Regions from separate parts of the Homo sapiens genome. Here all the other regions are linked to region 1. Evidence: fine-mapped expression QTL. A gene starts in region 1. Each other region holds a variant in brackets. All regions are shown on one strand. Distances are from middle to middle.

The links. PIP is the estimated chance that this variant, and not a neighbour inherited with it, causes the effect.
Region 2: its variant is fine-mapped to the expression of KCTD5 in esophagus mucosa (GTEx, PIP above 0.99).
Region 3: its variant is fine-mapped to the expression of KCTD5 in whole blood (INTERVAL, PIP 0.99).

Annotation. Positions count from the first base shown.
Region 1 is chr16:2,678,681-2,688,169 of GRCh38, forward strand. It overlaps KCTD5 (potassium channel tetramerization domain containing 5), which reads left to right and starts at 3,843. Exons shown (of 6, transcript NM_018992.4): 1 at 3,843-4,120. The coding sequence starts at 3,869. RefSeq lists a silencer at 3,926-4,105 and enhancers at 4,201-4,811, 4,356-4,405, 4,476-4,525, 8,092-8,141, 8,502-8,791.
Region 2 is chr16:2,060,941-2,068,940 of GRCh38, forward strand. TSC2 (TSC complex subunit 2) reads left to right here. Exons shown (of 42, transcript NM_000548.5): 12 at 931-1,068; 13 at 1,557-1,660; 14 at 2,032-2,113; 15 at 3,332-3,487; 16 at 4,579-4,695. Among named protein-coding and RNA genes, the nearest start is that of TSC2, 17 kb to the left of the region's middle. The variant T/C (reference allele first, on the strand shown) is at 4,092.
Region 3 is chr16:2,703,748-2,714,739 of GRCh38, forward strand. KCTD5 (potassium channel tetramerization domain containing 5) reads left to right here. Exons shown (of 6, transcript NM_018992.4): 6 at 3,551-5,283. The coding sequence ends at 3,580. It overlaps PRSS27 (serine protease 27), which reads right to left. Exons shown (of 6, transcript NM_031948.5): 4 at 10,318-10,589; 5 at 9,782-9,951; 6 at 8,675-9,067. The coding sequence ends at 8,873. Among named protein-coding and RNA genes, the nearest start is that of PRSS27, 11 kb to the right of the region's middle. The variant T/G (reference allele first, on the strand shown) is at 4,535.

The DNA.
Region 1 (9,489 bases):
TTGCTGTTTAATAGACTTGGGGCCATGTGCCTCCCCACACATGGGCAAGGACAGGTGGAATGTCGGGACCACACTGTGCGGCTTCTCGGCACAAAGTGGAGGGAGGCTGTGGTCGCTGCCGGCCTAGGTGTCCCAGGTGCCCCGCCTTTCTCTGGGACACAGTTGGGGGCTGGCTTCTGAGGGATTCCTTTCTCCCCTCTTTGTGTGGCCCCAGCCAGGGCGGTGGGCAGTCCTGGTGTAGAGCACAAGCCTCTCCACCCTAGAGAAATGCCTCTGTACCACGGCTACCATGTGGAACCTTAACTTGCAGAAGGCTTGTTAACAATTGTTTTGAGAGAGATGGCTGGTCATGCCACAGCTGCTGGGGACTCCGCCTACTCCAGCCCTCTTGGGACACACTGTGGGATTTGTGGCCCTTCCCCAGAGGAATTGTGGAGACTGTCCCATGGAACAAACCCTCAGGCACCAGCACAGGGCTCTGGGTGACTCAGTAAAACTAACGTTTGTCTCTGACAAGATCAGCTGTAGGCTCACCGGCCAGAGAAGACCACTGTGAGCATTTTGCCGTATATCCTGCCCTGCCATTTGTTCACTTTTTAAACTAAAATAGGAACATCCGACACACACCGTTTGCATCGTCTTCTCCCTTGATATTTTAAGCATTTTCCCATGTCATGAGTTTCTCAGAAACATGTTTTTAACAATTGTACTATTTAGTCATTGTCCATTTACTATAATTTATCTGACCATTTCCCTACTGTAAAATACTTGACGGTTTCTGATTTTTCCACTATTTAAATAATGCTGTGATGAATATCTTTAAAATCTTCTGATTTCTTACTTTTTTTCCCCTTAGATGCCTGGAAGTGGTATTTTGAGGTGAAAGAGTTTGTTCATTTTGAAGATATTTCTGTCTCTCTCTCGACCTGATGTGTAGACGCTCAGTTCCAGTAGCAGAACCACCTTAGTTGTGTCTTACAGATTCTGAACAAATCGGTTTCTGATAAGCCGTGTGTTCCAAAGAATGTCTGAATAAGACCGCTCTTTATTTAAATGCTAAGAGGATGTCACTACTGCAATCCATTTGTGGCCGATTTTTTCCAAGAGCCAATTTCCTTGTTTTGGTTGCAAGAACCTGGCTCTGCCTGCATGTCAGCTCTCTGCCCTCCCTGCTGCCGTGGCTTTCAAGCGCTTGGCGATATTTTCAGAATCTTGTACTTCATGTCCACAATGGTATTGAATTTGCAACTGCGCAGTCAGCAGAGATAACAAGTGTTGAACTGACCTTGCCACATGCTTAGTGAGTGATCTGTAATTAAGTTTATAGACTCAGAAAGTACATTAGGCCATTTGGAGTCAGTAGCAGAGCAAAGCCTCTACTTGAAAAAAACCACGTAGCTGATTGGGTTTTACAAGAGTGCATTTGTCTCCCCCTTCCACCCCCCCACCTTCAGGTCTTAGTGGTTCACAAGAGCCCAGCAGCCAGGCTGGCTTTTTCATTGTAGGGCGTGGTTGTCCCAGCTGGTGTAGATTTCAGGCCGCCTCCCCCCATCTCCCTGCCCACAGTGTTGCAGATTGCCTGGCTGGCAGCAAGTCCAGACCACCCAAATTTGGTTGGATTCTTCATTTCTCCACTGTAGTTGGGGTCCATTGATTGTGCAGGGGAACGTGCAGGAGGTTTTTCTAGGCACTGCGTTCAGTGCTGCTTCACTCTACCAGAGATTATGGCCAAATTGCACGGAATTTGGTTTCTTGCCCTCTGAAGCCTGAGGGCCCCCCCTTGCCTGGCTGGTTGACAGACCCGGGGTGCTCACTGCTGAGACTTCAGAGATCGCAGCTGCTGTGAGAATACGGTGAAGGTACTATGTTCTGGAAGATGTTGTCATACACTTTTCCCCAGTTATTTTCAAACTTGACATGAGCCTATGTTGACTCACTGGGTGGGGTCCCTTCTTACGCAGCACACGTGGCAAGTGCCTGAATCGGGGCTGGAGGCACTTCAGAGCCTCTGAGGGGCCACCACTTCTGGCCCAAAATTGCAGGGTTGTAGATGAGGCTGCCTGTGGAGAACTGGTGTGAGGAGGAAGCTGTTTCCAACAAAGAGCACTTTCATCTGTTGAGATGGCTGTGGTGAGCAACTGAACGAGCCTACGTGTGTACCTGAATTTTCCCCATAACTCATTTCTTCCATATGAAGAAACACCAAACTATGTACAGAGAACTTTTTACAAAAGGCAGACCTTTTTTAAGCTGTGTAACCCACATAGCCTAACCGTCTGGCAGAATGACTACGAATAGGGGTCATTGTGCTGGTAAAAGCCTCTATTACGACTGTTAAGTTGGATGTTGGCAAAATTAAATTGTTACAGTATTTAGAGCTGCTGTAGCTGTTCCTTCACAACATGAAATAGGATAAATGACTAGTACGTCTTTCAGGTGGGTGGCAGTCAGAACATGCGTAATATTCTCTACCTGGTCTGTAGCTGTAACTGTGATGTACAGACAAAGCAAAAATTAAAAGAACTCATGAAAACAAATAATACAATGGTATTAGGATATACACTTTTGTGTTTTTAATCTTATAGAAGGTTATTTGCTGGCTATTGTTGGCCTCTAGTTCAGCCTGTTATTTAAATTCTTTTTTTTTCTTGAGACGGAGTCTCACTCTGTCGCCCAGGCTAGAGTGCAGTGGCCTGATCTCGGCTAACTGCAACCTCCGCCTCCTGGGTTTAAGCAATTCTCTGCCTCAGCCTCCGAGTAGCTGGGATTACGAGCGCCCACAACCACATCTGGCTAATTTTTTGTATTTTTGGTAGAGACGGAGATTCACCATCTTGGCCAGGCTGATGTTGAACTCCTGACCTCGTGATCCACCCACCTTGGCCTCCCAAAGTGTTGGGATTACAGACATGAGCCACCGCGCCCGGCCTAAATTCTAATATATGAATTATTTGTATTGAATTCATGTTCGGGGCCACGTTGTTATATGTATTGATATACAGCCTTGAATGTGAATAATTACTATATATTTTACAACTTTTTTCTGGCTTTATTACAAAAACTTTCTTTTTTTTTTTTTGAGACAGACTCTCGCCCTATCACCAGGCTGGAGTGCAGTGGCGAGATCTCAGCTCACTGCAACCTCTGCCTCCCGGGTTCACGCCATTCTCCTGCCGCAGCCTCCCGAGTAGCTTGGATTACCGGCGCCCACCACCGCGCCAGGCTAATTTTTGTATTTTCAGTGGAGACCGGGCCTCACCATGTTGGCCAGCGTGGTCTCGATCTCCTGACCGCCTGATCCTCCCGCCTCGGCCTCCCAAAGTGCTGGGATTACAGGCGTGAGCCACCAGGCCCCGCCCTTATTATATAAATTTTCTATTGGGTCAATGATTTAATCATATAATTTAATGAATCTGTTCTTTTTTTCCCCCCAAATATTTGTGCTTTAGGTGTAGTTACCAGATGATGAATTTTCCTCCTATGCTCCGTAGTCTTGTAATAAAAAGCATGTACAGTGTAGACGTTTGCTGGCATGGCTCTTCCTTTGACCAGTTCATGAACTGGAGTCAGGGTGGGGGTGAAGGCTAGGGTCGAGGTCTGGGTCAGGCGCTCGTGCACCGCTCGTGGGAGGTCGAGGCTGATGTCCGCTGCTCCCCATCAGCGTTAGTGCCCAGATCACCCCGTGCTCCGCTCCCGCCGGAAGCGGGCCCAGCCTCCTGCTTTTCGGGACCGGAACTTCCGCCTACCGCGTGACGCCGGGGCGGGCGCTCTACCAGGGCGGACCTGTGGGCGGGACAGAACTCAGAGGACGCTATTAAAAGCCGGACGCTTCCGGTGGAAGGGAGCTGTTGCGGGGCTTGCTGGGATCATGGCGGAGAATCACTGCGAGCTCCTGTCGCCGGCCCGGGGCGGCATCGGGGCGGGGCTGGGGGGCGGCCTGTGCCGCCGCTGCAGCGCTGGGCTCGGCGCCCTGGCCCAGCGCCCTGGCAGCGTGTCCAAGTGGGTCCGACTCAACGTCGGCGGCACCTACTTCCTCACCACTCGGCAGACCCTGTGCCGGGACCCGAAATCCTTCCTGTACCGCTTATGCCAGGCCGATCCCGACCTGGACTCAGACAAGGTGAGGGCCTCACGGGCCAGCCCGGAGGGTCCTGGCCTTCCCGGCCTGCGGCTCCTGCACACGCCCTGCTTCGTGCGGAGGAGACTTCAGCGGGAGCGGGCGACTCTCCTCGGGCTTCGAGCCCCGCGCTCCCTTGTCGCCAGCTCCTCCCCAGCTTGCCCCGATCCCCTACCCTGGGAGGGGAGGGTGAGGATGGCGCCCTGGCGTCCACTGCCTTTGAGGATCCTGAGTCGATTCACCTTGGGGGTGTCTCTTCCTCGCCCTCTTTGCTCTTTGGTGGAGGAGGCTTCCTAGACCCCGGACTTTGCTGTGATTCTACTTTCTTTTTCTCACTAGGTTCTTTTGCCCAGGGTGTGTGAACGCCTTCTCTTCTCTGTCCCAGGGTACTTGCTGGCTCTGGAAACAGAACCCTTGGCGTTGTTTCACATTCTGGACGTTTGAATTAACGCTGACGTGGGGGTTGATATGGGCGGCCCTTTTTTTCCCTGGTGACTTGCATTTAGAGAGTTGGCGCTCCATCCTTTCCATCCACAGCACGCAGCACCCACTCAGCACCTCTTAGAAGATGCGTCCGTAGTATATAGTATGATTTTTCGAAGGGGATTTTGCTCATATTAAGGGTTGCTTTAGGGATGTCCAGGAAGGGTCAGGTAAGGAATCTTTCAATCTGCTTTCTAATTGGCTTAGTTTTCCCACTGTCTTCGCAAAAGGACAGGAATTTCCAGGTTAGTTTGCAGCTTGTCTTTCATCAAGCGAAATGCTCATGCTGTTGGGTAGATGGTAATAGAAACCTTTTGCTACCTTTATTTATCAAGAGTTGTGGAGCCGAGGAACCGTGTCTTGGGAGTTGTGCAGGATTGAAACTCACAAAAAAGCCTGTTTGAAGAAGTTGTTACCTATATTTATTCAAGGCAGTTCACAAGCCTTATACTAACTTTGCGGGGTCTTTCAGTTGAGCTTACATGACTGCGCTTGGCTTTGTGCCTTGGCAGCCAACATTTGCCATGCAGGAGGCTTCCCAGAAAGGTTCGGATCCCTCTTCAAGTTTGAGAAGCCTGACTGAGACCATTCTCAGCATGGCATGACCGTGATCAGGAAGTGAGAATCTGGAGTTACTGCTAAGGCAGCCTTGTGGGTGGAAATGAGGGTTTGAGATGCCAACCCTCCTGTGCCTCCCCACAACTTCCAACTGTTTCCATTGCTCATTTGACCAAGCCCTCTACTCAGAGAATTGACCTCCCAGGAAATGACAGTCATCCCCAGGATAGAAATAGGCGTTTGTTAGCTGTGATTTTCCTTTTATAAGTGTGGGTGTATGTTTTACTGTTTGGTTTTTCTTTTTAAATAACAGGGCTTAGTGGTCACTCCCTTGCCTTTCTACTCAAGCATTCCTGTTTTGTATATGAAATTAGAGTTTAAATTGCTCTTGTCCATTGGGTTCTTTGAGGCAATGGTTGTCTATTCAGCACTGGAGCACTTGATTCCCAGTTGATGAACTTTAGCACAGTTAAGGTGGTTGATCCCTTTGCTTTACTGTTCCTTAAGACTTTGTTAAAAATTATGGGCCAGGCGCGGTGGCTCATGCCTGTAATCCCAACACTTTGGGAGGCCCAGGCAGGTGGATCTCGTTCAAAACCAACCGGGCCAATATGGTGATGCCCGGTCTCTACTAAAAATACAAAAAGGTGGGCGCGGTGGCTCACGTCTGTAATCCCAGCACTTTGGGAGGCCGAGGCAGGCGGATCACGAGGTCAGGAGATCGAGACCATCCTGGCTAACATGATGAAACTCTGTCTCTACTAAAAATACAAAAAATGAGCCAGGCGCGGTGGCGAGCACCTGTAGTCCCAGCTACTAGGCAGTCTGAGGCAGGAGAATGGCGTGAGCCTGGGAGGAGGAGCTTGCAGTGAGCCTAGTTAGCGCCACTGCAGTCCAGCCTGGGTGAAAGAGCAAGACTCCATCACAAAAAAAAAAAAATAAAAAAAAAATAAGCCAGGTGTGGTGGCGCGTGCCTGTAGTCCCAGCTACTCTGGAGGCTGAGGCAGAAGAATCGCTTGAACCTGGGAGGTGGAGCTTGCAGTGAGTCAAGATCACGCCACTGCACTCTAGCTTGGATGACAGAGGAAGACTCTGTCTCAAACAAACAAAAAAATGCTTTACTGTAGGAATCAATTCTTTGAGCGAGGGGTAATTAATCTTTCTGAATATATCTGTGTTATACTTGCTCTTTTCATCATCATCCATTTAACCAGGTTTGATTTCCAAATGGTAAACTCAAATTCAGAACATGAAGGTAAAGTAGCAGATACAGTCGTCTCTGTCTCATACAATAATTGGAGTAGGGGCCGGGCAAGGTGGCTCACGCCTGTAATCCCAGCACTTTGGGAGGCCGAGGCGCGTGAATCACCTGAGGTCAGGAGTTTGAGAGCAGCCTGGCCAGCATGGCAAAACCCCGTCTCTACTAAAAATACAAAAAAATTAGCTGGGCATGGTGGCGCGTGCCTGTACTCCCAGCTACTCGGGAGGCTGAGGCAGGAGAACCACTTGAACCGAGAGGCAGAGGTTACAGTGGGCTGAGGTTGCGCCACTGCACTCCAGCATGGGCGACAGATCGAGACTCTGTCTCAAAAAAAAAGAAAAAAGAAAAGGAGAAAACAATAATTGGAGTAAATAAGGTTAGTTTTAGTGACAGATAGTTTGCCAAAAGTGTAGTGCTAATTCATATTAGTCACGTTACTAAAGTGTTTTCCGGTGTTTTTCATCAAATGAGGAAATGTGTAAAATGCTTCATCTTAGTTTTGTCTCCAGTGGCTCTGATGAAAGAATGTCCCAGGAGATTCCTCCTAATTAAATGCTGACTGAGGAATCTGAGGAGGGGGGGAAGGGGTGTCAGGAGTGGGAGGCCATTAATGACACGTTGGAAGACAAACAGGATGTTGATTCACCTGTAAAGATCTCCAAGGCCTGACCTCAGAGTTGAGATTAAGGAAAGAATATTCCTCGAGTTGGACTTAAGCATGGATCTGGTGGAAGAGTCCCTGCCTGGATTATTAGACTTGTGTGGAGTGAGCACCTGGGCTTGCAGAGTGTGGGGGTCTGGAGAGGAGTTGGGTGGGGAGATTTAAGGGGGAGGAGTTCCCAAGAAACCACAGAAGCTTTGGGTGCCTGAGAGGTTGGGAGAGCACCCTGCTAAAGCATCCTATCTGGTAGGGAGGGGAGCTCTTGACAGACGGGTTGTTAGGGAGGGTGGTGAAAGCCACGCACATCAAGGGGCTGGCTTGATTGCCCTCTGGCCCCACATCTAAGCTTCTGGGCTGTGACTGCCCCCAACCAAGTCCTCAGAGCCCAGCTTGGGACCCACCACCCGCCATACTCCACGCTCCCAAGCCCTTACTCTGCTGTTCCAAGGGCCGACCTGCTGCCACAAAGTTCTCTTTCTAGACAGCCCGGTGTGAATTCTCACTTCCTCCTGGGACTTCCTCCAGCAGGACTGTGGCTGTGGTGAGCATTTCAGCATCTGCTCATCTGCTGTTCTGTCATCTTTCTCTTCCTTGGTGTCTTCGAGGGCAGGCCAGGTGGAATACGGCTTCCCAAAGACTCGATTCATTTTGGTTAGGTCTCTTGTATTGCATGGTCCCCGGCCCATAGGCATTGTTGAAAACAAAGTCGAGTTTGTTGTTTCCAGCTAAAGCAGCCCCTGCTTTAGTGTGGAGATACTTGAGGAGTTAAAAGGAAACAGGAAATACTACTGCTTTATGGTTGGAAACCACTCAGATGGAGGAGAATTTGGGGAGGCTTCGGTTCCTGCAGCTGAGGCAGCCTTGGAGAAAACTGCACGTGAACTTTTGCCCTTTGAACAGGGCCGTTGTCCCGGCTTGAGGGTTCCAGATGTGGTGGCATCAGATGGGTCTTTGAGGGGTGGGGCAGTCAGGGTGCCTCTAACAGTGTACTGGGTGTTGGCAAGACCTCGGGGGTGGAAAGTTATGGAAGGAATTGTTCAGACAGGGCCCAGTGATGGGGTGTGGGCTAGAGTACCGTCTTTGAAGCCGCTTGGCAAGAGAAGTGGGGATCACGTCTAGTGGAGATGGCAGATGATGTTCTGTGTAGCCAGCACTGGTGAGAGCTATGGTGGCCTCAGTTTGAGGCCGTTAGTGGGTGTCTGCGACGCTGATGGACTTTGTTTCACGCTTCAGTTGAGGATGTGGCTCTGAGCACGATCTTCGCTCTGACCACAAGTCATCTTCTATTCTGGACCTCTGCGATGGTCCCTGCGGTGCTGGGGGCTCCCCGCTCCTTCCCCACTGCAGCAGGTGCTGGTCCTCAGCAAACCTGTGCTCACCTCTTTATCAGGTGCCTCACCTGAAGCCCTTTAGACCTTAGGCCACGAGTCAGTTCCATAAATTCCTGAGAAAAGGACTCGACTCTGGTGATGAAATGGAACGTTTCTGATGGGTTCAGTCCTACCTAGGAAGAATGAAAGAAAACAGTTTTGAGGCTTTCTGAGAAGAGCTTGTTTCGGGGCACCTGACATGGGCCCGCGGTCTTCGGCATTCTCGCCTCCAGACTTCTGCGGGTGGCTGGGAGGAAATGCTGTCGCTGCAGGGCAGTTCCTCTTTCTGGCCCTGCAGATACAGCCTTCAGTGGCTGTCGTCCAGCAGGGCAGTGACTAGTCTTGGTTTAGAGCAGGAGTCAGAAAGCTGGTCCACCTGCCTGTTTTTGCAAGTAAAGTTTTACAGGAATGCAGAGATGCCCATTTGCTTACGGATTGTGTGTGGCCGTTTTTGCTCTGAAAGGTCACGGAGTGAGGTCTAAAGCCTCGCCAGGGCTGTGGCCGTGATGGGGGCGCCTGCTGCCTGGTCTCGCCCCGGCCCTGTCGTTAACCACCAGGCATCCCAGGGACTCCTTTTCAGACACTTGTAGGCACTTTGGTTCTTTTAGCAGCCCCCCTCCACGCCCCAGGTAAGCAGTCCCCAGGCATGGTCTTTAAAGCCTGGGGAAGAACCTGCCTGCCTGGCGCCATGGGAGGGGTCCTTGTAGCAAAGGTGCCAGCAAGCCATCTCTCTCCCAGGACATGCTTGTTCTCCCTGGGCGTCAACTCGGCAGTTCTCCATGGACTGCAGAATGTCTAGAACATTCTGGCCTGGGGTTGATGTGACAGAGCATCTTCCTTGGAGTTGGGGAGCCTGGGTTGGAATCTGCCCACCTCTGGCCTGCCTTATGACTTGGGGTGATTTCGTGCCCCTGTGAGCTGTGCTTTCTTCCTCTGTAAAGTCCTTACTTTACTGTGACGTCCTCTCCTGAAGATGACAAATGTGATGCCCCCGCCCCGTACCTGGTGCCAGGTCAGTGCAGTCAGGAGAGGTTGTGCC
Region 2 (8,000 bases), 620 kb before region 1:
GGTGATTCGCAGTGGCGCTCATCCACCTTCCACCGGAGACAGGTCTGATTTTTCCAGACGTGGTGCATCGTTTAGGCCCCAGACAGGAATATGCAGTAGGTGAGCCGGGGCTGGGCCAGTGCTGTCCACAGTCCGCAGAGTGACCTGCAGGCCGCCTTCGTGGCCTGAGTGGGCCCCGGCACAGTTCCCAGAGGGATGCCAGTGTGGCTTCCGCATGACTTTGGAGGACCGCATTAGTCGAGTCTGTTAACCACAGCTTTAAGGAGGACTCCACGGCCACACGGGCTCATCAGCATAGGGGCCCTGGGGAGGCGAGGCTAGTATCCAGCAGCCTCAGGGCTGTGCCTTTTCCTGGAGCCTGGGGCGGGTGATGTACAGGAGGCCAGGCAGCAGAAGGGAGGCCGGGACTTCGCCGGGACTTAGCAGGGACTGAAGTCCTCTCAGAGCCTGTCGCTGGGCCAGAGCATTGCCCCCGACCGCTGGTGGCAGTGGCAGAGGTCATAGCCTGGGGCTTCTAAAAGAGGCTGGACCTGGGAGAGGCAAGAAAGGCTTGTAGTTGTGGCTACTCTTGGCCCTCCTGCCCGAGCTTCCTTCTTGGCCCAGCTGCATGGGCACAGCCAAGATTCCTTGGGGGGTGGGGTACGGGCAGGAACAGCAGCTGCCATCACAGCCACTGTGGCCCCTTGAGAGGATCTGGGGGGTGTCCTGGGCCACGTGGGTCAGGGTGGCCCCTGGAGAGGATCTGGGGGTGTCTCAACCCATGAGGCCCGGAGCGGCCTCAGAGGGCTGGGGGCGTCTGTCCCCATGCGGCCCAGAGCGGCCTGAGAGGGCTGAGGGTGTCTCCATGCGGTGGGTGTGTAGCGAGGCCTCTGGTGCCAAGTCCATGTGGGGAGTGGAAGTCAGCCTGTGTCATCGTGCCTGGTACTGCAGACCTTGGACAGCCCGGAGCTCAGGACCATCGTCCATGACCTGTTGACCACGGTGGAGGAGCTGTGTGACCAGAACGAGTTCCACGGGTCTCAGGAGAGATACTTTGAACTGGTGGAGAGATGTGCGGACCAGAGGCCTGTGAGACCCCCTCCTGGGTGGGGCCTTTGGGCTTTGGCTGGTGGGGAGGGGCCGGGTGCTGGGTGAAGTGCAGCTTTCTGAGCCTCAGAAGCCAAGGGCCAGGTGGGCGCCTGCTTTCCAGGTTTCTGCACTCGGCAGGGAAGGCTGGCAGGCACAGCACGTGTTTGGTAACAAGCTCGGGGCTAGCCCACCCATCAGTTTCCTCCCACCTGTGTGGAGCAAGCTTCCATCCGGCTCTGTAGAGTCCTGTGGCTCCCAGGCGGCCGCAGTCATTTTGCCAGGAACACTCAGCTTAGGGCCCAGGCTTTTCCATGGGTTTGGACACAAGTCTTCCCCGCTGCCAGGAGTGCCTTTGTGTCTGGGCTGTGGGCTGCAGGCTGTGAGGCGGCTGGGCTCTGACAGCAAACCAGCCTCTCGACCAGCAGCCCAGTGTGGAGAAGGAGAGCGCCGGAGGGGCAGAGGGGCAACACCGGCTCTTCTTTTGACAGGAGTCCTCCCTCCTGAACCTGATCTCCTATAGAGCGCAGTCCATCCACCCGGCCAAGGACGGCTGGATTCAGAACCTGCAGGCGCTGATGGAGAGATTCTTCAGGTAGGGGGTCCTCTGTAGCCTTGCCTGGCACCTGGAGCCTGGCCCTGTCTCTGTCTGGGGCCCACCCGGGCTGGGTCTCAGGATGCCCGATGAGCAGGGCCCTCCCCTCTGCCTCTGGAGAGCCCTGGCTCTGGGTGAGCAGGTGCTAGCTTGCTTTCCAGTCCAGCAGGACAGGTCCTCTCATGACGCCACTGGGCTCCCTCTTTTCGGGGGTCGTCTGGAGAGATGCTCCCTGGGAAGCAGAGCTCTGTGCCCTGTGTGCCTGGCCGCGGGAGGACCCAGAGTCGGGCTGGCCTGCGCCAGGCAGACGGGCTGGTGTGGGGCTGTGGCCGGGCACTCCCCACCCGCCCCAGCAGGCTGCCGTCCCGCAGGAGCGAGTCCCGAGGCGCCGTGCGCATCAAGGTGCTGGACGTGCTGTCCTTTGTGCTGCTCATCAACAGGCAGTTCTATGAGGTGCGTGTCCAGGCGGCCGCAGCTGGGGGCTCAGGGCTATTTCTCCGTGGGCGGGCTGTCTCTGTTGTGCACGTGCTCCCGCAGAGCCGGGCTCTGCCTGGGACTTCGGTCCTGCCGGACCCTCTGCAGCCCCCAGCGTGGTCTGTTTACCCCTGTTCATTCACTGGCTTGCTCGTCCTGGGTGCCTCTGCCAGGCCTTGACACGTGGCCAAGTAGCAAGGAAGGCACAGTGCCTGCCCTCAGGGAGCTCCGGCCGGTTTTCACCCAACACAGGAGCCTCTTAAAAATTCTGTGTGAGTTCGTTTCAGCCAGTCTTGCATGGGGACATTGTCTTCCGTTTCAGTCCTGACGTTCACCCTGTGCACCTGCGTGATCGCCAGCCCTGCCTGGTCTCTCCTCTGCGGGCTCTCCCTCTCCACTCCCTCCTCTGGGAGCTCTGTGGCCCCAGGCCCACCTTCCTTGAGAGACATTTGTGTGCCTGCCAGTCATACCCCTTTCCCAGGAGGCGCAGCTTAGGCTCTGAGGCTGTCCCTTCCCACCGAACTCCTCCCTGCAGCCTCGCAGTCCTGCCCTCCTGAGAGCTGCCCACTCTGCTCCTCTCCCCAGCGTCCACTGTCCTTGAATTGCCCTTTGCTGGGCATTGCGATCCCGCATTCTGTCTGAGGGAGCTAAGGGCCTCCTGGAAGTTCCTCTGGGTCCTCTGGCTTCTCCCATCAGGGCTGGTCTTGTCCTGGTCTCTGTTCCTGTGGAACTTTTTACCTGCTTCTGTGAAAACTCACGCTGTCCTCAGCACAGCACGCACACACACGCATATTCACGCATGCACAGGCACACACGTGCACATGCCCACGCGTGCACACAGCCACACACACCCTCACGCACACACGCACAGCACCATGTGGGAGGGGTTCTCGGCTGTGACAGTGAAGGGCAGGGCCTCACCTCGGCTGCTCCTTGTGAGTTGTGGGCCCCGTGTCTGTGCCCGGCCGCCCTGCGGTGCTCACCAGCCTTCTGAACGAGGAGCTGGACAGGATCCCTGGAAGGGGCCCCGGGGTCTCTGAGTCGCGCTCAGCGGGTGCTTGTGCTCTCTGCCCAGCTGTGCTGAAGTCCCGAGGGACATGTCCGCTGCTTGCGGGTCGGTTCCTGAGGAATTGGAAGTGTCACGAGATGTGGCCCTCGTTGGGCTGGCGCTCATTGGCCTCCCTTGTGCCTGTGCAGGAGGAGCTGATTAACTCAGTGGTCATCTCGCAGCTCTCCCACATCCCCGAGGATAAAGACCACCAGGTCCGAAAGCTGGCCACCCAGTTGCTGGTGGACCTGGCAGAGGGCTGCCACACACACCACTTCAACAGCCTGCTGGACATCATCGAGAAGGTGAGAGCCGTTGTACCCGGGGCCGGGTGCTAGCGTGCCAGAGCTCCGTGGGCAGCAATGGCCTCTGGGCCCTCTGTCCTCCTCTTCGAGTGACCGGATGGCTGTGTCCGTAGGTGAGGCTCCCCTCCCTGCAGGGTGGGTGTCCCGAGGCCTGTGCAGGGCCTGCCACTGCTGGATTTGTGTCCTGACTGAAAGTCCTGGACATGGGTGTCCTGTCACACTCTGGGACAGCTGGGCTGGGCCTCCTGGACCGACGCTGGAGCCCAGACCTGGGGCTGGGGCTTTGGCCTGCCGTCCTCCCTGCCCAGCCAACAGCTTTGCTCTTTGATTTTCAGATGCATTTTGGTTTCTGCACAGTCACTCGGGTATAAAGGGCATCTTTGCTTTTGAGCAATAAAGATGAAGGCCGGGCACAGTGGCTCACGCCTGTAATCCCAGCATTTTGGGAGGCTGAGGCAGGTGGATTGCTTGAGTTCAGGAGTTCAAGACCAGCCTGGCCAACATGGTGAAATCCTGTCTCTACTAAAAATATAAAAATTAGCTGCACGTGGTGGCGGGCACCTGCAATCCCAGCTGCTCAGGAGGCTGAGGCAGGAGAATCGCT[T/C]GAACCTAGGAGGTGAAGGTTGCAGTGAGCCAAGATTCTGCCACTGCACTCCAGCCTGGACGACAGAGCAAGACTCTGTCTCAAAAAGAAAAAAAAAAAGGGCCGGGCACGGTGGCTCATGCCTGTAATCCCAGCACTTTGGGAGGCCAAGGCAGGCGGATCATGAGGTCAGGAGATCAAGACCATCCTGGCTAACACGGTGAAACCCCATCTCTACTAAAAATACAAAAAATTAGCTGGGCGTGGTGGCGGGCGCCTGTAGTCCTAGCTACTGGGGAGGCTGAGGCAGGAGAATGGCGTGAACCTGGGAGGCGGAGCTTGTAGTGAGCTGAGATTGTGCCACCGCACTCCAGCCTGGGCGACAGAGCAAGACTCGATCTCAAAAAAAAAAAAAAAAAAAAAAAAGGTGTTTGTGGTAGAAAGTGTTCTCACGGCTGCTGACTCAGAACCATGAGCCTGTGTGTAAGTCCTGGCCTTCTCTTCAAAGGTGATGGCCCGCTCCCTCTCCCCACCCCCGGAGCTGGAAGAAAGGGATGTGGCCGCATACTCGGCCTCCTTGGAGGATGTGAAGACAGCCGTCCTGGGGCTTCTGGTCATCCTTCAGGTGGGTGTTCTGCACGAGGCCTCTGCTCCCGGGGCGCGCATGGCTAGCGTCCACCAGCTGCATCTGCGTTGTGTTGGAGTCTGTTCCCCAGCGGGACCCACACCCTCCCTGGATTTGCTGAGGGTGCGGTGGTCTCAGCAGGCAGCAGAACCTTCCTCCTGCTCTTGTGGAGGGATGGATGCAAGAGGCCCCGTTGTACGCCCTGACCAGAGCTTGTCTCTGTGCTCCTGAGTCAGGGCCGGAACCATGTACCATCCTCAGCGTGGCGCTTGCCCTCGTCACCCAGCACAGCACCTGGGAAGTAAGGGTGGCCCTCCATTCCTGCCCTGCAGTCCGTTTAATATTTGCAGCTGTTTTGTTGAGATTTAATTTACATATCATGCAATTTACCCATTCACAGTGAACAGTTCAGTGGTTTTCAGTAAATTCACAGAGCTCTGCAGCCAACCCCACAGTCAGCTTGAGAACCTCCTGAGCATACCAGTAGCACACGCTCCCATCCCCCGTTGCTCCCGTACCCCCGGGTACCATCAAGCTGCTTCCTGTCTCTGTGGATTTACCTACTCTCAACATTTCATGGAAGTGGAATCACACAAAATTCATCCATAAGATGTTGGATGGTAGAACAGTTTCCTGTCTGCTGACTGGATTGTTCCACCCAGCGCCATGTGTCCAGGCCCGTCCAGGCTGTGGCAGCTGTTGGTGCTCCCCTCCTTTTCATGGCTGAGTAGTATTCCATCATCTGGAAGGAGCACATTTTGTCTGTCCGTTCCTCCATTGGTGGACATTTGGCCTGTGTCCGCCTTGCAGCTGCGGTGAGTGGTGCTGCTGTGAACCTTCTCCTACGAGGGCTCCGCCGGGCCTGCATTTTCACTTTTGGGTCTGCACCTAGGAGTGAATTGTTGGGCCCTAGGTTTAGTCTGCATTTGGTGTTTCAAGGCGATACCAGGCTGTTTTCCACTGGTGCTGTGCCATTTTCCATCCACTCGAGCAGCATGTAAGGGTTCTGATTTATCTTTTTTTTTTTTTTTTTTTTTTTTGATACAGTCTCACTCTGTCGCCCAGGCTGGAGTGGAGTGCAGTGGCGCGATCTTGGCTCACTGCAACCTTCGCCTCTTGGGTTCAGGCGATTCTCCTACCTCAGCCTCCTGAGCATCTCGTATTACAGGCACCTGCCAACATACTCGGCTAATTTTTTGTATTATTAGTAGAAACTGGGTTTCACCATGTTGGCCAGGCTGGTCTTGAACTCCTGACCTCAGGTGATCCTCCCGCCTTGGCCTCCCAAAGTGCTGGGATTACAGGTGTGAGCCACCACGCCCGGCCTGCCTCTACTTTTCAAAGCCTCACAGCATCACTTACGTGTGACTGTCAGTGTCAGTATCGTGTAAAATATAATGTATGAATCAGTTTGCTCAAAAGCTCATCCTTAAGATGTTGGATGGTAGAACAATTTCCTGTCATGTTTATATGTCATGGGTTTTTATTTCTTGCCATGGAAGTTGAAAGTGGTGATGATTTTTTTTTTTAATTAATTTTTTGAGACAAGATCTCACTCTGTCGCCCAGGCTGGGGTGCAGTGCTGTGACCATAGCTCAGTGCAGCCTTGAACTCCTGTGACCAAGTGATCGTCCTGCCTCGGAGGCCTCCCAAGTAGCTGGGACCATAGGCACACGTCACCACACCTGGCTAATTTTTTCATTTTTTGTAGAGATGGGGTCTTTATATGTTGCCCAGCCTGGCATCAACCTCCTGGCCTCAAGCAGTTCTCCCACCATAGCCTCCCAAAGTGCTGGGATTACAGGCATGAGCCACCACACCTGGCCGTGGTGTTTGATTAAAAACCAGGCATCAGCCGGGTGTGGTGGCTCATGCCCGTAATCCCAGCACTTTGGGAGGCTGAGGTGGGTGGATCACCTGAGGTTGGGAGTTCAAGACCAGCCTGACCAACATGGAGAAACCCCGTCTCTACTAAAAATACAAAATTAGCCGGGCGTGGTGGCGCATGCCTGTAGTCCCAGCTACTCGGGAGGCTGAGGCAGGAGAATCACTTGAACCCATGAGGCAGAGGGTACAGTAAGCCCAGATCACGCCATTGCACTCCAGCCTAGGCAACAAGAATGAAACAACGTCTCAAAAACAAAACAAAGCAAAAACAGGCATCACCTCCTTGGTGTCTCATCCACATGAGCACCATGCTCTTTACTGACTGGTTGGGAAGGGGTGTGCTGGGCTGTGGGGGCCTATGGCCTGGGAGAACTGAGAACCTTTCTGCTTCTGCAGAGGGAAGGAAAGAGGTTCTGTTGCCCTTACTTGGAACTCCAGCCCTGGAGGCCTGAGGGTCTGGGCTGCAGAACTGAGATATTTCCTAGTTGAGGCAGAGTCCTGGTTCTGGCTGCTTTCATTTCTTTATTTTTTTGAGATAGAGTCTCACCACTATGTCACCCAGGCTGGAGTGCAGCGGCACGATCTCACCTCACTGCAACCTCCGCCTCCCAGGTTCAAGCAATTCTCTTGCCTCAGCCTCCTGAGTAGCTGAGATGACAGGTGCGCACCACCACACCTGGCTAATTTTTGTATTTTTAGTAGTGACATGGTTTCACCATGTTGGCCAGGCTGGTCTCAATCTCCTGACCTCAAGTGATCCACCCACCCCAGACCCCCAAAGTGTTGGGATTACAGGCGTGAGCCATCGTGCCTGGCCTGTTTTCATTTCTTTTGTTATAATTGAAAAGTAACACAGTTGACTCTTGAACAGTATGGGGCTGGGAGTGCCAGCCCCTGTGCAGGTGAAAATCCCCATCTAACTTTTAACTCCCCAGAAACTTTACCAACAGCCCTCTGTTGACTAGAAGCCTTGCTGATAGCAGACAGTCTATTAATGTACAGCTCGTGTGTTTTATGTATTCTGTGTTTTTACAGTGAAGTAAGCTAGAGAAAAGCAAATGCTGTTAAGATGCTAGGCATGGTGACTCACGCCTGTAATCCTGGCAGTTTGGGAGGCCGAGGCGGGCAGATCATGAGGCCAGGAGTTCGAGACCAGCCTGACCAACATGGTGAAACCCCGTCTCTACTAAAAATACAAAAATTAGCTGGATGCGGTGGTGCGCACCTGTAATCCCAGCTACTCGGGAGGCTGAGGTAGGAGAATCACTTGAACCTGGGAGGTGGAGGTTGCAGTGACCTGAGATCGTGCCATAGCACTCCAGCCTGGGCGACAGAGAAAGACTCCGTCTCAAAAAAAAAAAAAAAAAAAAATCATAAGGAAGCGAAAATACATTTCCTGTTCCTTAAGTGGAAGTGGC
Region 3 (10,992 bases), 26 kb after region 1:
CACTGCCGTTCCTCGAGGCCGAGGCAGTGTAGGCTGGGGCAGGCCCTGGTGTGGGACAGCCGGGGTGGAAGCTGGGGTTCCACCGCCAGGCTCGGAGATGCTCTTCCATTTGAGTCTCGGATCTAGGAGGCGACCCCTGGCTCCCTGAGAGCCCCAGCTCAGTCACAAGGAGGCACTTCTCTTCCTCTTGGAGCAATCGTAGGGCTCTTTTCTAAATGGTTTTATTTTTAGAAGTTTTTTATTTCTGAGCTGAGTTTTTATAACCAAGCTCCCCTGGGCTCCTATCCCTCAGGTGGCTTGGCAGCTGCAGAAAGGACACGCTCTGTACTGTGAGGAAGCTCCAGGCATGACCCCAAATCCCTTTGTGGTTGAGAATGTGGCCCTATTTCATTTTCCAAAAATACCTGCTCTGAAGTGGGGCAGCTATGGCGGCTTCTTGATGGGGGTGGTGTCAGCAGTGCCCCAGGAGGCAGAGCTCAGGCCAGAGCCTCAGGAGGCCGTGGGGGATTGCGGGGGCCAGAGCTGGAGGACCGTGATGGGGGCACCCCTGGCTGGGCTGCGCAGGGCCGCATGGGCTGTGGGCCCTCGTCGCTGGTGTCCCTGCAGCATGTGTGGCCTGGCCCTGCTGGGCAGCTGTCCCCCACTTCAGTCAGCGGCGGCGGGAGAGCCTGGGTGGTGGGGCGGGAGGGGTTGCACCTGTAGCAAGTGAAGGCGGTCCACACATGAGCACACCTGCTTCCCACGCCAGTCCCTCAAGAACTTGCTAGAAGGACTCGCAGAGCTCACTGAGAGCGCTTAGACTCAAGGCCGCCATTTATTCCCAAGGAACAGAGAGAGACAGGCTCAGATCAGCAAGGGCGGGCACCTGGGCAGAGGCCGGGGTCTCCCAGTGCCTGGGCGGCTGAGGAGGGGGTTCCTTGGTGGTGTTGGGGCTCCATTGCGTAGCCATGCTCGATGGGTGCATCCACCGCCTGCCCCCGTGGCTGATCCCTCCTGTGACCCAGGGCCCCACCCTCCCTCCTGCAGCAGTGGGGCCAATGCAGTGGGGTCCACAGAGCCCACGCAGCAGAGGCCCTCCTATCAGGCCGAGATCTGTGGGCTAGCGCCGCCTGCCAGGAGTGGGGCCAGAGGCCAGGCGCCTCTGGACAGGGTTCAGCCCCTCAGCACATGGTGGGACAGGACCAGCCCCGGATCGCAAGATGCAGCCGCCTCACACGTGGAGGTTTCCACCTCTGAGATGTGGCAGAGCCCCTGAGCCTGTGTGTCCCCTCGTGGCGTGGCCTCACTGGAAGGTCACCGGGCGTGGGGGTTTGGGCCCGGGGCACCCGCCCACCCGCACTGTCCTGACAGCCTGTCTTCTCCCCCACTGCGCGCTGCACGCCGCCAGAGTGACGACGAGGACCAGGGGCACCCAGGGAGTGGCTCAGATTAAGTGTGAATGTCATGGTGAGCTCCGTGGCCTCCTTGACCCCATGGCCCCAGCTGACCCTTGCCACAGACCCTCCCTGTGTGTCTGTCCCTGCCTGTAGTTGACGAGAGCCGTCCGCACTCCATGCCAGCTGTAGATCCTCAGTAGCACTGTCTTGGTGGTGGGGCTGTTGCTGTGAGGCAGATGCCCAGGGGCAGTGTTGGGGCGTTTGTTGGGATGACTGGAGGGTGCCCGTGCCAGGCCAGGCTGTGGACATCAGTGGTCGTGAACCCAAGAGCCCCTCCTGGGGGCTGGGCAGGGAGTGCCACTCGTGCCGCCAGCCCTAGTGGGTGACCTTCCTGTCTGGCTTAGGCCACAGGCTCAGGGCCAAGGGGTCAGGACCAGTGCGGCAGACAGCAGACCCCTATCTCAGCTGCCAAATCCTGCGGCATCCCTGATGCGCTTAAGCCTCCCAGGCCAGCCGTGTCCTGCAAGCCCCTCAGCCACCCGGGCCTGCCTGCCTGTGGGGGTGTCTGGCCATGGGGTACAGCCTCAAGGGCCCCCTGGTTGGTGTCTGCAGTTGGACCTTCCTGTGGAAGATGGCCTAGGGAGACAGTGTGTCCAGAAAAGATGGGTCTCACCCCAGGCTCTGTCTAGAGTAGCCCGTGCTGCTCCCGGCCTTGGGAGGGCGAAGGACAGCACTTTGGCTGCAGGTCTCCAGGGTGTCTCCTGCCCTCATCAGGAGGGAGCTGTTGGGGCTCCCGGATGCTCAGATGCCACACTGCTCCTGGCCTGTCCGCTGCGCTACTTAGTTTTACACAGGGCTGGTGGGGGCTTGGGGGCTGCACTGTCTCCCCAAGTCAACTCCAGACATCCCAGTAAACTTGGGAATCACCCTGGCCCAGGGAGGGACGTGCTGCCCCTCGCACAGGGGGATGGGCTCCTCCGAGGCACTGGAGAGTGAGTGGGAGCCTCGAGCTAGAAGTGGTCCAGGGCACTGAGCCTGGGGGGCACCCGCCTGGGAACGGCAGAGCTGTTGGGGGGTGGAGTATTGGAGTCAGGCTGAGCAGCTCAGGGGACGTGGCCTCCAGGAGCCTTCGGAACAAGCCTGGGGTGGCATGCACCTCTCACCACTGCCCTCTCTCCGGTCAGTGCGGCATGGCAGTGACCTCTGGGAGGCTGTGCCCGGCGAGGGCGTGGGCGTTGCTGCCCTACCTGGTGTTGGGCAGCCCTCACGTGACACATGGAGACAGCTGTTGTGGGCCACGCACAGTGAGGCTGGCTGGCTCCGAAGCTCTCTGCTCGGGAGCGTGGGGTGATTTCCCCTCCACCTGGTCTCTGGAGCTGCCATGGCTCATTTTGGGAGTTCACCTCAGCAGCATTGGCCAGCGCCTGAGCCTGTCCTCAGGGGAGCCCAGGCCGACTTGGGGGTGGCCTCAGGGGGTTCCTGGACACTGGTGAGGGAAGTGGGGAGGGTACCTTGAGGAAGAGTTTTGAGGAGATTGGAGGGTGGGGAGGGCAGGGGGCCGAGGGGCCGTGGGCTCTGCAGGGCTGACGTGGTACAGATGAGGAGGGGATCCCCGCAGCGTGATCTGCACTTGGGGTAGGGCCCTCTGAGGGCTGGTGGTTGTTCCATGGGGCAGTCGGGAGGGGCCAGCACATGAGGTGGGCTGGCCAGGCTGAGGTGCAGGGCCGAGGGCTTGGGTGAGGGGCATCTCCAGGAGGGTCCGGGCGTCGGGGTGGGGGTGGGGGCTGCAGTGGGCATGGAGGAACAGAGGGAGAGACTTAATTGGGGAGGGGGGACTGGACTGCTGAGGGACCCGCGGGCCGAGTTGCGCTTCATGTCTGAGGCCCAGGACTGAGTGGGCTGAGAGGCCCAAGAGTCAGCGCCTTTGGGTGGGTCTGGGAGGGGCTGCCATGCACAGTGAGCGCTCCCTGTGTGGGGCCTGGAGATGTGCCAGACACCCCGGTGAAGGTCCTGGGCCTGCCAGCTGAGTCCCCAAGACCCTGGCCAGTGCCGCTGGGTTCCCGGGGCTCCCCGAGCTAACCCCAGGCCTGTGGGCTCTGTTTTCTGGAGCAGGCGCCTGGTCAGGGACACCTCCTCAGCCCAAGTCCTCATTTTATGCATTTGGTGTTTTTCAGATTTTGCAAGAACGAGGCTCAAGGATGTGAGGGACACAGTATTGACAGCTGAAGAAATGATTTACGTTTTCCCGAGATGTAATGAACTGCCATGTCCAGGAAGCTTGGCTGTGAGAAGAAACCTGCTTTTGATCATTTTTCTAGAGATCTGGGTGTGAATCCTTTTTTGCCTCTGAGGTGGGTGGTGAGAGACGGGCCCAGCTGTCCAAGGCCAGACGTCCCCAAGTTGGGGGAGCACGGCGGCCGGGTGGGCGCTGCCTCTTGGGGGGGCCTCGCTCTGTTTTTTCCAAGTGCCACGTGGGACTGAGGCAGACACTCCCAGTCAGCCCGCTCGATCCTGAAGATCGTGTGAAGGAAGCGTTCTTGGTGCTACACACAGTCTGGAAAAGCAGCCTGGGCTTCACTGGCAGGAAGCGGCCGCAGCCGCGTCAGTGTCCAGCACGTCGTGGCCTCTGGTCCGACCACCAGGCCCTAGTCTCGGTCAGGGAGTCTGCTCTGCCTCCCAGGCGGGATCGCTGGTTTCTCTCGACCTCGCAGAGCTCCTGACAAAGGCGGCTTCTGCGTCGTCACTGCTTCCCGGCGCCATTCCGAGGCCGGGCCTTCTTCTGACACGGGCTCCAACCCCACCTGACCAAGCCCGGGACAGTCAAGGCTTCTCAATTTGTATTTTCCAGGCAAGAGAACTTTGTACCCCTTCTCTGTGTGGATAGACTCCCCAGCGTTTTTCCTCTGGAAATGCCCACAGGGCTTGCCGCGTGGAGACTGATCTGTTCCATCCGTTAGCGCGAGGTAGCAGTGTCGCCTCGCCCCTCCCACTGCGGGCTCACGGGGAGCTGGCGTCTGTCAGTGCCTTGTCACGCCTGGCATAGAGGTTGGGCTGGAGGCCTGTCCACTGGCTTCTGGAGCTGAAGGTCTGCGTCACGGTGAAAATTCGGGATGTTTACAGAGCATCACAAATGCCTCTCTCTCGCCGCTCTCTCATTT[T/G]CTTTGTATAACTATGCAGCCTTCCCTCTCTTTCTGGGATGTTTGGGACTTCACTCGACCTGCACGGGCTCTGCCCGACATGCCGTGGGAGCTGCTGGGATTCCTTTAGAAACCGCTGCCCGCATGCTTTGAAAACAGACCTTTCTCAGCTGGCTGTGGGGACCTGTCAGAGTCTGGGGACTCGGCGTGCAGGGCGGGCTCCAAGCGCTTTGCTTCCGGAACTCCGGCTTCCCAAGGGGTACTGTGCAGACTGACCACCGGCCTCCCGCCTGCAGGTCAGAGGCTCTGACACTGTCTGGTTTCCAATGCTTCTGGAGACTTCCTGCCTAGGCCTCATCCTCCTCTTTGCCAGTCACCTGATTAACCAATTCTCCAGCATTAGGACTTACCTCCTTCTTTTTGTAAGGTCTCTTGTATGTTGTTAAATGTTTGGCTTAAACAATTTATAAAAGCCTTTCTAGAAGGCAGACTTAGCCCCAGCAGAGCCTGGGAGGAAGGCGGCCGCTGGGGCTCCTGGGCATCCTCTCTGGGGAGCTGCTGGCCGCTTAGCGTTGTTTGATTTTTGACCTTGACATAGTAGATAGGCTTGTGGTTTTTTTAATTTAAAGATATTAAGACTTAATTCACTAAAATTTATTCTAAGGGGATATTTATACTTTTATACTTTTTTAGGTATCGTATTTTATCAGCTTACAGTTTAATGCCTAAGTTTCCCCTGGAAATAGCAAATAAAATTGTGTATTTATGAATGCGCGTAGTAGCTGTTTATGGTCTTAAGATGCAGGGGAATGCCACCCCGGGTCGCTCGGACCAAGGTGCTGCCCCTCCAAGCCGCCCAGCCCCACTGGCCGCGGCGGCTCACTCAGGGCTCTGCCTCTGCCTCTCAGTCGATGGCCAGGGCGGAGCTGGGCCATCCACGGGGTGCCGGCTTGGCCAGGGTCACTGGATCAGAGCTGCACGGCCCATCCCTGCACCCCACTCTGCCTGGACCCCTCACCTACCTCCAGCAGATAGCATACCCCCATCCCGGGAGACCGGAGACCATGTACAAGGGCCTTTTTTTTTCCTTAAGAGACAGGGGTCTTGCTATGTTGCCCAGGCTGGTCTTGAACTGCTGGGCTCAAGTGATCCTCCTGCCTCAGCCTCCTGAGCAGTTGGGATTACAGGCGTGAGCCATTGCGCGCGGCTCAAGTGATGTTTTTTTGAAAGTCCTGATACCTCAAGTTAGCATCCACCTCTCTTCCCTCACTTTAGCCTGCAGCCTGGGTTGTGACAGCAGGAGCTTCCCGAGAAGGTCCTGGGGTCCCGGCACCCCCTCGCCAGCTGCTGTGACTCCTCCTGGTGGCTGCTCCACGAAGCCTTGGCTGTTGGACTCCCCGCCCCCCCGCAGGGAGATTCCCATTCACGGTGTCCCCCAGGGCCTGGCTGTCTGAGGTCACAGAGCCTCAGGCTGTAGTGGCCTTGTCCATCCTGTTTCCAGGTGTGTGGCTGGCCCAGCCTGACCCCAGGGCCCTGGTGAGGGGTGGAGTGGGTGACTGGGCTTCTGGGTGCCCAGCATGAGGCCGGCACGGGGCTTGGAGTAGGGGAGAGACCCAGTTTCTGCTCCAAGGGGTCTTCCCGCTGCCCGACTCCCACCAGGAGCCTGGCTAGGCCTTACAGCCCCTTGACCAGGTAGAGTTGTGGGCACTTGGGAGAAGCCTCAGCGTGGCAGGCGTCCCCAGCCAAAGCCCGGAGCAGGTTTCCCATCCAAGCAAAAGGCTGTAAAGGAGACAGGCCCTGCAGTTTGGGTCCTGAAGCCGAGGATGCTCAGGGCCGCTGGGTCTGCTGGGCAGGGAGGGAGCCCTGTTCCTCCTCAGACCTTGGGCTCCAGCACAGCCCGCCCGCTGTGGGGACTGGGGCCCAGCCCTGTGGCTCCAGGAAGCCAGCGTGGGGGCAGAAGAGGAGGCAGGGGCGGGGCACATGCAGGTGCCCTGCGTGGGTGCCCGTCCTCCCCAGGCTTCCTGTAGAGCCCATGACTGGAGCCCTCCAGCGGCTGGCACCACCCTCCTTGACATCCCTGCATTTATTGGTGTCCACTCAGCAGGGACTTCTAGCACCCTCCTTCCTCCTAAAGCTCGTGGCAGTGGCCGGCTGGGGCGATGAAGAGCTGACCCCACAGTGCAGCCACCAAGGCCCTGACGTGGCATCTGTGTGAGGGACGATGACTTCCGGCACCTCTGCACTGAGCCGTGCCCCCCAAGATGGGTCACTTTGCCCTCAGACCACCTCTTCCTCCCCAGTGTTCCCAGGCCTGGGGCTCGGCACAGGGAGGCCTGGCCTGTGGCTGACCCCTCACCGCAGTTCTGGCCCGAATGGAGCCCACAGACTTCTTTCCTGGGGCTCCCGCTCCTGCTCTGTGTGTGTGTGTGTGTGTGTGTGTGTGTGTGTGTGTGTGTGTGTACCTACTGGCTGTACATGGTGTGGGTGTGGTGTGTGCCTGTGTGCACATGGTGTGTGTGGCATGCACATGTGTGCTGTATGTGATGTGTGGCATGTGGTGTGTGCTTGGTATGTGGTGTGTGCCTGTGTGTGGCATGTGACATGCATGTGTTGTGTGTGCCTGTGAGTGGCATGGGAATGGTGTGTGTATGTGTGCACATGGGCCAGCTGAGCCTGGGGATGAAGGCTGCCGCCCGCTCTGCCTACCTCCCTGTGAGCCACAGAATGTGCGCGGGCCTGTGCCAGGCTCTCCCTCGAGTCCCTCCTGGAGCTGGCAGGGGCCCTGCTGCCGCCCACCTGGCAGATGGCTCAGAGCCCTGCTTGGCAGCAGCGTGCAAAGTCTGAGCTGCACCCCCGCCCCAGGATGGAAAAGGGACCTGTGGCAACCTGGACTATTCCCTTCCTAACGTCCTTCTCACGGCATGCTTCGTGGGAGCTGTTAATTGCATGAAATAGCCCTGTTTTCCCTTCTCAACCCCTAGTCTCTGTAGAGAGTGTTTTCTGCTCCTCTCCCACGGGCATCTGCCTGTTGACATCCTGGGTCTGGGTGGGGTCTCAGCACAAAGACAGCAGGGGCTGCCCTCCCTAGACCATCTAACCTGTAGCCTCCCCTCTGACCACGGGGGCCTGGGGCTCCTTGCACAGCCCAGAGCAGGGTGCAGGTTCACCCAGGGCTCTCCGAGGCTGGGAGGCCTGGCCAGTCCCTGCTTGGCTAGGACCACCCAGTGCTGCTCCCTGGGCCTGCCTCTCCCTCCACCTGGGCTTCGTGCATCTGCTCCCCCATGGGGCTGTGCGCACAGGCCCCCCAGACCTGCCCACCCACCCCTGGGCTGGAGGAGTGCAAGAAATGGCCCACGGGGGCCACTGGGCAGCCGTTGGGGAGATGGGTCGGGCCCAGCGGGGAATTCCTTCTGTTTTGCTCCCCACGGTGTCCCCAGCAGCTGCTTGCTGAGTGGGTGTTGGTTTGATTCCTTGGTGGACACTCAGGGCCTGATTTCTTCCTGCCGCTGTACAGGCCACGGTGCCTGTGTGTGTGTGCACGGGTGCGTGTGGGTGTGATGTGCATGTCCAGCCTAATCCCCTTGCCACCACGCACTGCTCTGGACTCCTGCATGGGGGTGGAGACTGAGGGATGGGGCGGAGGAAGAGGAGCCAAGGGTCAAGGGGAGACGCCGGGGCACAGGGAGACGAAGGGTGCCAGGAGCAGTGGAGCAGGAAAGCACAGGTGTGGGCACCCACTCCTGCCGAAGTGGTTTAGAAAAGTTGGGTGGCCCCGAGACACGGGCAGCCGGAAGTGCAGGCTTGGGAGGCTGAGGTGCCCCCGCCCAGCCAGTCCCTCCATGCCCTCCTCTCGCCCCGGCACAGCTCCTGCATGGCCCTGAGGCTCTTTCCACCTGTGTCCGTCGCTGTCCCCAGTGCCAACCCTGGGGCGGCCTTTAAGGTGAGAGAACAGAGGCACAGGTGGCAGCAGGTGGCCTCCTGTGCGGGGCCCGTGACAGGGGTCCCATACTCTGGTGCTGTCCTCGCCTCGGGCACCAGCTGCAGCTCCCTTCTGCTGATTCAGAGATGACCAGAGCACTCCGCATCTCCCACCTGGGCTTCATCCTGCAACTCACAGCTCCTCACCCGCCGGGGTCCCCCAAGGATCCCCACGTGGGCAGCTGGCACACAGGCTGGGTTTTTATTGGGAGAAACATAAATAAAATAAGGGTATTTGAGAGGGGAGGAAGGAGCGCTATTTACAAATGAGTCTGGTGGGGCTCACAGGTGCAACAGCAGCGCTGGGAGGACCAGCAGGATGGTGTGGGCGGGCAGGCTGGGTGCAGAGCTCTGCTCAAGGGGCTCCTGGCCCCGGGGGTCTCACTTCTGGCCGCCCAACCTCGCTGGCTGGAACTGCAGTTTGGGGATGATCCGATGGATCCAGTTGTGGTGGGCGGTGACACGGATGTAGACACCTGGGCGGTTCTGGCGGGCACAGCCCTCACCCCAGCTGATCACCCCCGCCTGCAGCCACGACTGACCCACGAGGCACACCAGGGGGCCGCCCGAGTCGCCCTGCGGGGGACGCAGAGTCACCGTCAGAGCCCACCTTGAGTTCCCAGAGACTCAGTTGCAGCCGCACAGGAGGTGTGTAGCTCCGCAATGGATTCCTTCTCTCCATCCCAGAGCCTCTCTGCCCGGCTCCCCATCCCCTGCCAGTCCGATTGTCTAAAGTGCCTATTCTTTAGTGTCCCCAGATCAACTAGGGTGTGTGTGTGTGTTGAAAATGCAGTTTCTTGTGCCCCACCCCAGACCCACTGACTCTGATCCTTCTGGGGTGGGGTCCAGGAATCTGCTTTTTCTTTTTTTTTTTTATTGAGACGGAGTCTTGCTCTGTGGCCCAGGCTGGAGTGCACTGGCGCGATCTCGGCTCACTGCAAGCTCCGCCTCCCAGGTTCGCGCCATTCTCCTGCCTCAGCCTCCCAAGTAGCTGGGACTACAGGCGCCCACCACCACGCCTGGCTAATTTTTTGTATTTTTAGTAGAGATGGGGTTTCACTGTGTTAGCCAGGATGGTCTCCATCTCCTGACCTTGTGATCCACCCTCCTTGGCCTCCCAAAGTGCTGGGATTACAGGCGTGAGCCACCACACCCGGCCCTGGAATCTGCCTTTTCAAAACAAGCTGCTCAGCTGGTTGAATGCATAGCCCATGGAGCGGGGCATGATCCCACCCTGCCCTGGGCCTGGCGGTGGGGACTGAGTCCCCATGGACACCACATTGCTCCCACCTTGCAGGCATCCTTCTTGCCCTCCTCGAAGCCGGCGCACAGCATGTCATTCTTGATGGTTTTGGGTTGGTAGCCAAACTCGGTGTCTTTGCTGTAGAGCAGGTTGCACTTGGGTGTGTCGATGATGGGCACAGCGAGTTTCTGCAGGATCCGCGGTTCGGGCAGGAGGTCTGGAGAGGGGCGGAACAGCCCAGGGCTCAACGGACTTCCTCATCAAGAACCCACGGCCCCGGGAACCACCACTCCATCCTGCCTGTCGTTTCCTCATGTTTAGACCATCTCTGGCTTAGGGCACTGTGGGGCAGACATCCTCCCTCCTTCCAGGCAGCAGGCTGGGCCCTTTCTGTCCCCCTCTCCCTTCACCCCCTCTTCCTTCTGGGTCTGCTGCTGCTCCCCTCGGCCCCACCTGTGTGAACAGAGACCGTGTGTATGTATTAATATAGCAACAGGAAGATTGTGGGTTCAGAGTGGTCCCCAAGCCGTCCTGGGCCTTCTTGAGGCATATCCCCCATTCTTTCCCAGCCCTGTCCCCTTACCTTCCTCACTGGGGCTGCCCCAGCCAGTGACCCAGCAGTTCATGCCCGTCTCAAAGATCACCGAGGGGTCAGGCAGGCACACGGGGAGGATGTAATTGGTGAAGGGCACTGGTGCCTCCAGCTCCACCAGGGCCACGTCAGCGCTGGAGGCCGTGCCCTGGTACAGGGGGTTGCTCTCCACCTGCCTCACCCGGGCATACATAGCGTGTGGTCCCGGCTGCACTAGCTGCCTTGCCCCCAGCAGGACCTGGTACAGGGACGTCTCAGAGGTGCTGGCGGGAGAAACAGAGAGGCGGCGTGAGGCGGCCCCTCGTGTGGGGACAGGCCCGGGAGGGGCTGGGGCTCCTCTGGCCACCACCGTGCCCCACACCTCTCTCTGCACAATGTCTTCGAGAGTCATCTCTAGGACAGCCAGGTGCAGCGGTGATGCGTGTTGACATTGAAGCCAGACCGCCCGACTCAGATTTCCACCTCCACCCCTGGCCGCTGTGTGGCCTTGGGCAAGTCACTTAACAAGTTCTCTGTGATGCAGCTTTCTCACCTGTGCTGTGGGGACAGTCACAGTGCCTACCTGAAAGGCTGGCTCGGAGAGAACCACCCTCCAGGTGCAGCAGGGCCAGCCCCACCTGCGGGCCTCTGGCAGGTGACCTGCCCTCTCTCAGCCCGAGTTTCCGA